Homo sapiens: one gene and its partner. The protein of the gene in region 1 purifies or fractionates together with the protein of each later gene. This does not show direct contact. Each region holds a gene or a part of one and is shown on either strand. Other genes may lie near its edges.

The links.
Region 2: the proteins of HEMGN (region 1) and MNDA purify together in Homo sapiens (co-immunoprecipitation; one study listed by IntAct). This does not show direct contact.

Annotation. Positions count from the first base shown.
Region 1 is NC_000009.12:97,928,018-97,931,673, forward strand, and holds part of HEMGN (hemogen), read right to left. Parts: intron 3,205-3,656; coding exon 2,018-3,204; intron 1-2,017. UniProt on the Homo sapiens protein: Regulates the proliferation and differentiation of hematopoietic cells. Overexpression block the TPA-induced megakaryocytic differentiation in the K562 cell model. May also prevent cell apoptosis through the activation of the nuclear factor-kappa B (NF-kB).
Region 2 is NC_000001.11:158,844,820-158,848,475, forward strand, and holds part of MNDA (myeloid cell nuclear differentiation antigen), read left to right. Parts: intron 1-767; coding exon 768-1,184; intron 1,185-2,908; coding exon 2,909-3,097; intron 3,098-3,656. UniProt on the Homo sapiens protein: May act as a transcriptional activator/repressor in the myeloid lineage. Plays a role in the granulocyte/monocyte cell-specific response to interferon. Stimulates the DNA binding of the transcriptional repressor protein YY1.

The DNA of each region.
Region 1 (3,656 bases):
CAAGTGTATTTTTTTTTTTTTTTTTTTGAGCCGGAGTCTCGCTCTGTCGCCCAGGCTGGAGTGCAGTGGCGCGATCTCTGCTCACTGCAAGCTCCGCCTCCCGGGTTCACGCCATTCTCCTGCTTCAGCCTCCCGAGTAGCTGGGACTACAGGCGCCCGCCACCGCGCCCGGCTAATTTTTTGTAATTTTAGTAGAGACGGGGTTTCATCGTGTTAGCCAGAATGGTCTCGATCTCCTGACCTCGTGATCCGCCCACCTCGGCCTCCCAACGTGCTGGGATTACAGGCGTGAGCCACCGCGCCCGGCCGATCAAGTGTATTTTTTAACCTAGCAGACAGACAAGGATTTTTAAAATGTCATAATGTACAGTGCTGACAAGGGTGTGGGGAAAAGGCACCTGTCTCGTGTGAATTGCTACCACATTTCTGGAGGCTAGTCTGACTGACTGTATATTCAAACTTTAAATTTGGGTACCGTTTGGCCCAACAATTTGATTTCTAGGGGTTGATTCAAAGGAAATAATCAGACAAACTTCAGCCTCCAGTGCCTCCATTTCCTTATATTTAGAATGGGAGTATTATTTATCCAGTAGAGCTTTTAACATTGAATAAAATAAACCACATAAAATATTTAATATGGTGTCTGGCACATAGAAAAGTACCAGATAAATGTTAACTAAATAAATGTTATTCCCAATGATGTTCATTGAACATTGTTGTAATAGTAAAACTTGGCAGTAACCTAAGTGTTCATCCTTATAGAGACTGGTTGAATATACATATAGCACAGTACTATGCAGTTGTTACAAAAGACATCATAAAGATGGCTGCAATACATATTGTAAATGAAAACAAAAACAAGTTACAGGATAGGATGGGTACTGTCTCATTTGTTGAAACAAAACAACCTTAACATTGGGAACTGAAGATAGAAGATGGTATTATAGGGGACTTTTACTTTACTTGATATTCACTTACATATTGCTTTATTATAATGAACACTTACTACTTTTATAATCAGGAAAAATAGATATTCCCATTTATTTGGTCAAACAAAGCCAAAAATAAAATAAGCGTTAATTAATTGACCATATCGACCTTGCTGGGTTTAGAATGAAGCAGTTAGGAATCAGGACGCTGTGTTGGTTAGAGCTGCTTCTCCAGCAGGGTACTCCTGTCAGTGCACGTACTGCTTCACATGCCTGCTTTTGCTGCAATGTATTTCTTTAAAGTAGTTCTTCAAAACTGGTATTACTTGGAAACCAACTAGCACCATGTTTTTGTTGCACTCATCTTTTAGGATAAAGAGCAAGTAAACTACTAAAGGGATTTCTTTAGAAATCAGTTTCCTGGGGATAACTATGGTCTGATAGACTCAGTCCATTTCTTATACTGTCTACAGTATTGTACAAAGAGAGCTGAAGTTCTCAGTTATGTCTCTGAGGCAAGTGAAATTAAAGAAAGGTTGCATTATTTTCAAATTCCTATACTTAGGAAAAAGTTTTTCAGGAACAAATCTTGAAATAGAAAGGGTTTTTGGTAAACCTGATAAATCCTACAAGAATGAATTCCCTAGTAACAGGATTATATTTTACAGCTTTTATCTCCCTCAGTACTTCGTACTATGAATTTACCTGCTTTCCATTTATCAGGCAAATTAAATTTCCTAGAAAAACTTCATTCATCAAGCTTTCTTGTTAATGTAGACTTAATTTTTAAAAATATTTTGCAATAATTCATCCTATATTGGGTTCATTTCACTGACTATAGCATCTCATAATGGATGGATAGTATGAATAAGTACTTAATGTACATGCTTGCATTTTCAATTTTTTTAACTCTTTGAAATATGCCAAGACAGACGTTGGTTGCATGAAAATATTGTTCACTTAAAACTAGTCAATGAAATTCACAGTATCCATTGAAATAACAGGGAATACCCAGGATTGTCAGAGAAAGTTGTAAATCACTACTCTGGGGGAGATGTACCTACCTTGGTGCTATAAACAGCCCTTACCTTGAGGAAAAGTATAAGCATCTTTAGCATCTTCCTGGTGTGCTTTAGGATCCTGGCCTTGGGGCCCACCTGTTTCTTGGTGTGGTTCTGGAAAGCATTCTTTAGGCACATCCTTATTTTTATATGTCTCAGTAGAGAGGTCTTCAGGCCCCGGTGTTTCTTGGTATATTTCAGGTGAATATTCTTCAAGCTGGGATGTTTCTTGGTATATTTCAGGTGAATATTCTTCAAGCCCAGGTATTTCTTGATACGTTTCAGGTGAATATTTTTCAGACCCAGGAGTTTCTTGGTTTATTTCAATTGAATAGTCTTCAGAATGAGGTGTTTCTTGGATTGTTTTATGAGAGGGGGCTTTAGGCACAATAATTTCGTTACATGTTTTATGAGGAAGGTATTTAGGTTCAGCTGATTCTTGGTGTGTTTTTGTAGAAAGGTCTTTAGGCTCAGCTATTTCTTGTATTTTAGGAAAAAGGCCTTCTGTCTCAGCTATTCCTTGATCTGTTTCATTGTATTCCTCTGGTTCTGCTGGATTTTGGTCTGTGTCAAGAATATAGCCTTTAGGCACATCTGGTTTTGGATATGCTTGAAGAGAGCATCCTGCCAGATCAGCTGTGTCTTCAGATGTTGGACAAGGAAGGATTTTGGGTACAGCAGCTTCTTGGCACATTTTAGGAGCCAGATCTTCTCGTTTAGCCATATCTTGGTACATTTTGAAAGGATGGTCTTGAATTACAGATATTACTTGGCATGTGTTAGGAGAGTTGTCTTCAGGTTCCTTCATGTCTTGGCATATTTTGGAAGAATTGTCTTGAAGTACAGATATTTCTTGGTACATTTTAGGAGAGAGGTCTTCAGGTTCAGACACATGTTGGCATGTTTCAGAAGAATGGTTTTGTACTGCTATTTCTTGGTACTCAGAAAAATTCTCCTGATATATGTTACTTTCTTGACATATTTCAGAAAAGTGTTCCTCAGGCACAACTTTTTGCGGGGAGGCTACTGAAGGAAATACTTTGGTTATGCTCCCAGGTGGCTCAGTTTTTTTCTCTATAGGTGCCAGTGCTTTCTCCACTATTTCCTTTTCTATCTGTGGCTGAGGCTCCACCTTCAATTCTGTGTTTTGTTGTCTCTTTCTGCCTCTTCGATTTCCTTTTCCTGTTCTCTGCTGCTTGCGTTTTTTCTGTTCTCTGCAGAAAGAACAGAATTAGTGTCAGCAGTGGTACTACAGAATTCAAATAAATGCTTGTAATAACAGTGCCAGGTCCCCCACTGCCTCATTGCACAAGTATCATGAACTAGTCACTTAATCTCTCTGGGCCTCAATCTCCTTGTTTGTAAAATGAAGGAGCAGCTCTAGATGTTCTCAATTCTTAGGAGAGGGAATGTTTCTCCAGGACTTCGTGGCATTGATACCATGCTTACCAGGAGCCTTCTTGGTGAGGGTAGTGCATGCGCGTATGCGTGCGTGCGTGTGTTATAGCATATTCTTAAAGTTTTGTTATGGAAAATAAATAATTCTCATTACAAATTAATAGAGTGGCATTCTGGTTTATACACTAGTCTCTTTGCATTTAGTCTTTGTGTGTTACTTCCCTACCCCTGAGTAAACTCATACAAATCGAGTTTCTAGACCTGGCAC
Region 2 (3,656 bases), on another chromosome or scaffold:
ATGCTGTCCAAGTTGTTTTCACTTTGTTGATTGTCTTTGATAATTTCAGTAGGTAGAGGAGATATTTGGATTTGTTATTATATTCTAATCTTTCTTTAAAGTTTCTTCACAACAATGTTTTCATCATCTGCTACTCTAGATTGTTCATGCAGAAGATCATGCTTTGCTTCAGGAAGATTATTCTGAGTCAATGAGGGTGATTTAATTTCCAAGCCTGTTGTCTGTTACCTTAGGCTTTCAGTAGCTAAACTTTACCAGCTCATGTGCCTTTCCTTTCTGTTCAGTAATCCCTGTCTAGCCTAGCCCCCAGCTCCAAATATCTGTGAAAGTTGTTGGGTCGAAAGCTCTGCAGAGTCACTCGTGCAGAGTGACTTTGTATTCCTGCTCAAAGTTTTTGTTGTTGTTTGTTTGTTTGTTTGTTTGTTTGTTTGTTTTTGAGACGGAGTCTCGCTCTATCGCCCAGGCTGGAGTGCAGTGGTGCGATCTGGTCTCACTGCAAGCTCCGCCTCCCAGGTTCATGCCATTCTGCTGCCTCAGCCTCCCGAGTAGCTGGGACTACAGACGCCCGCTACAACGCCCGGCTAGTTTTTTTTGTATTTTTAGTAGAGATGGGGGTTTCACCATGTTAGCCAGGATGGTCTCGATCTTCTGACCTCGTGATCCACCCGCCTCGGCTTCCCAAAGTGCTAGGATTACAGGCGTGAGCCACCGCGCCCGGCCTCCTGCTCAAAGTTTTAAGTTTATTTTCTTGTGTCTGCCCAACACAGAATCAGGAAACCCAGGCCCAACGGCAGGTGGATGCAAGAAGAAATGTTCCCCAAAACGACCCAGTGACAGTGGTGGTACTGAAAGCAACAGCGCCATTTAAATACGAGTCCCCAGAAAATGGGAAAAGCACAATGTTTCATGCTACAGTGGCCAGTAAGACTCAATATTTCCATGTGAAAGTCTTCGACATCAACTTGAAAGAGAAATTTGTAAGGAAGAAGGTCATTACCATATCTGATTACTCTGAATGTAAAGGAGTAATGGAAATAAAGGAAGCATCATCTGTGTCTGACTTTAATCAAAATTTTGAGGTCCCAAACAGAATTATCGAAATAGCAAATAAAACTCCCAAGATCAGTCAACTTTACAAGCAAGCATCTGGAACAATGGTGTATGGGTTGTTTATGTTACAAAAGGTAAACCCTTAATTTTGTTTTAATTTTCTCTACCATTACCTGGAAATAAATGTCTTAATTTGCCAGACTTACTGTCTGAATATTGGAACACAAGAATTTATATTGACTAGAGATAGTGATGAAGTTGTCCCACAAAATAGGAAATAGGACTAAGTGACCTATTAACTTTCTTACGCCAAAATAAATGTAGGGACTTTGAAAAAAAGTTAGTAAGAAATATTGGCAGTAATGATCTGTTGTCAGCCACAATGAACTAGGACAATACAGGGTCCAAATCAACGGGAGCAAGCTAATAACATCATCTCTTTCAGCTCCATCCCAATGAGCACTGATAATTTTACTGTGAGTTTTGATAAATTTATTTTAAGTAATGAATTGTGCTACCAAGGTTGAATTCTGGTTGTGACATAATTTTGGAGTAATAAGTGGATTGGCTGGTATGCTCATAAATGCAAATACATTCAACAGCTATCCATACAATCTAAACATTTGTGCTTAGATCAGTTGCCCTTCTATCTTATTTATTTATTCATTTATTTATGAAGATAGCATTGAACAACTGAGAAATATTGAATTCCATGATACTTAAAGGATAAGGCAATCTCTTCATACTATTTACAAAAAAAAAATAATTCCAAGGCACAGAGTTTTATTGATATGTCCATGTCCAAATTCAAGATGCTAGTTAGGATAATGCATTCCATCCCTTTCTCCACTCTAAAACATTACACATTTCTATGAACTCAACTAACATTTTATATGATTGACTGCTTTATAACCCTACATACATGTCTTTCAATATAGCCCCTTAAATTTACCTCCACATTTTCTCACACTCTCTTTAAGAGATCTTGCTTATAAATGCAATTACAGAATTGATGAGTAATAGCTTAAGTGTGTGAAACACTACAGAGTATGAATGGAGGGAGTTAGGTCAATGGGGACAAGATATTGGAAAAGAATAAGTAATGAGGAAGGCTGAGAAAGAATGAATGATTGTGTTATAGAAGATTTTTCCTTTAAAATTTCTCATAATCTGAAGTAACTCAGGAGTGGAAAACCAAATATTGTATGTTCTCACTTGTAAGGAGGAGCTAAGCTATGAGTACACAAAGGCATACAGAGTGATCTAATAAACTTTCAAGACTCAGAAGCGGGAGGCTGGGAGGGAGGTGAGGGATACAAAACTATATATTGGGTACAATGTACACTACTTGGGTAATGGCTGCCCTAAAATCTCAGAATTCACCGCCATATAATTAATCCATGTAACCCAAAACCATTTGTACCCCAAAAGCTATTGAAATTTTTAAAAATTAAAATAATAATAAAGTGAAATTCCTCATAATCTACTGAATGAATAATTGTAGAAAGCATACATTTGTTTTTCCACAGGACCATGAGCCAAGAAGTTCTATAGGAATTTTTGATTCCTCTATATCTAGGTGCTTTATTTACTCTCAGCTGATCTGAAGGTGGTAGCAGGAGAAAAAGAGGGAAATATTTATTGTTGTATAATTGCAGAAAGAAAAATACCTTAAGCAGGAAAAAAAAATGCTGGATAATAAAAGATGGACCCTGTGAGATGGCAGGCCAAGCCACATGTATGATCTGTACCTGTCATTCCTGTCGTGCATATTGCATTAACTTTGTCATGAGACTCTTTCTCATCTATATGATACTAACAATCCTCTCAGAAACAGGATGTTAATCTTCTTTTGCAGAAAAGCGTACACAAGAAGAACACAATTTATGAAATACAGGATAATACAGGATCCATGGATGTAGTGGGGAGTGGAAAATGGCACAATATCAAGTGTGAGAAAGGAGATAAACTTCGACTCTTCTGCCTTCAACTGAGAACAGTTGACCGCAAGCTGAAACTGGTGTGTGGAAGTCACAGCTTCATCAAGGTGGGAACTGGATAGAGGAGAATGAGTTTGCTAAAGAGGCAAATAATTTTGCTTAGGCTTTGGGAACACCAGGTTCCTCATGTATTACTCAGAGAGTCCAGCGAGTGGAAGGAGAACCTAAACAATGCCCTTGCATTTGTAACTGGAAGATTTTCAGAAGGATATTAAGGTAAAGGCATTCATACAGCTCTAGAAAGGATACAATACTAGTGTTAATTGATTTAAAGATGTGTCTAGCGGCAGGGAACATAGGGCTCAAGAGCAAGGGTTCTGAATAAGACAGATCTGATTTGAATCCTGGATTTAAGAAGCACTAGTTGGCTGATATTGGGGAAACAGTTTCATTGGTCCTCTAAAATAATGGAAGTCTCCACTTCATTGGGATGGTTTAAACATTCAGACAATGTATACATATTAATTATCTCACAACCTGGCACATCATAATAAACTGATCTGTGGTAGATAGTTTTATTTTTAGGAAGGTAAAAATTGGAGGGACTTTTAGGCAAAGGAAATGATACATGAAAATTCCAAAAGTGTGACATAGCGTAATGAGTTC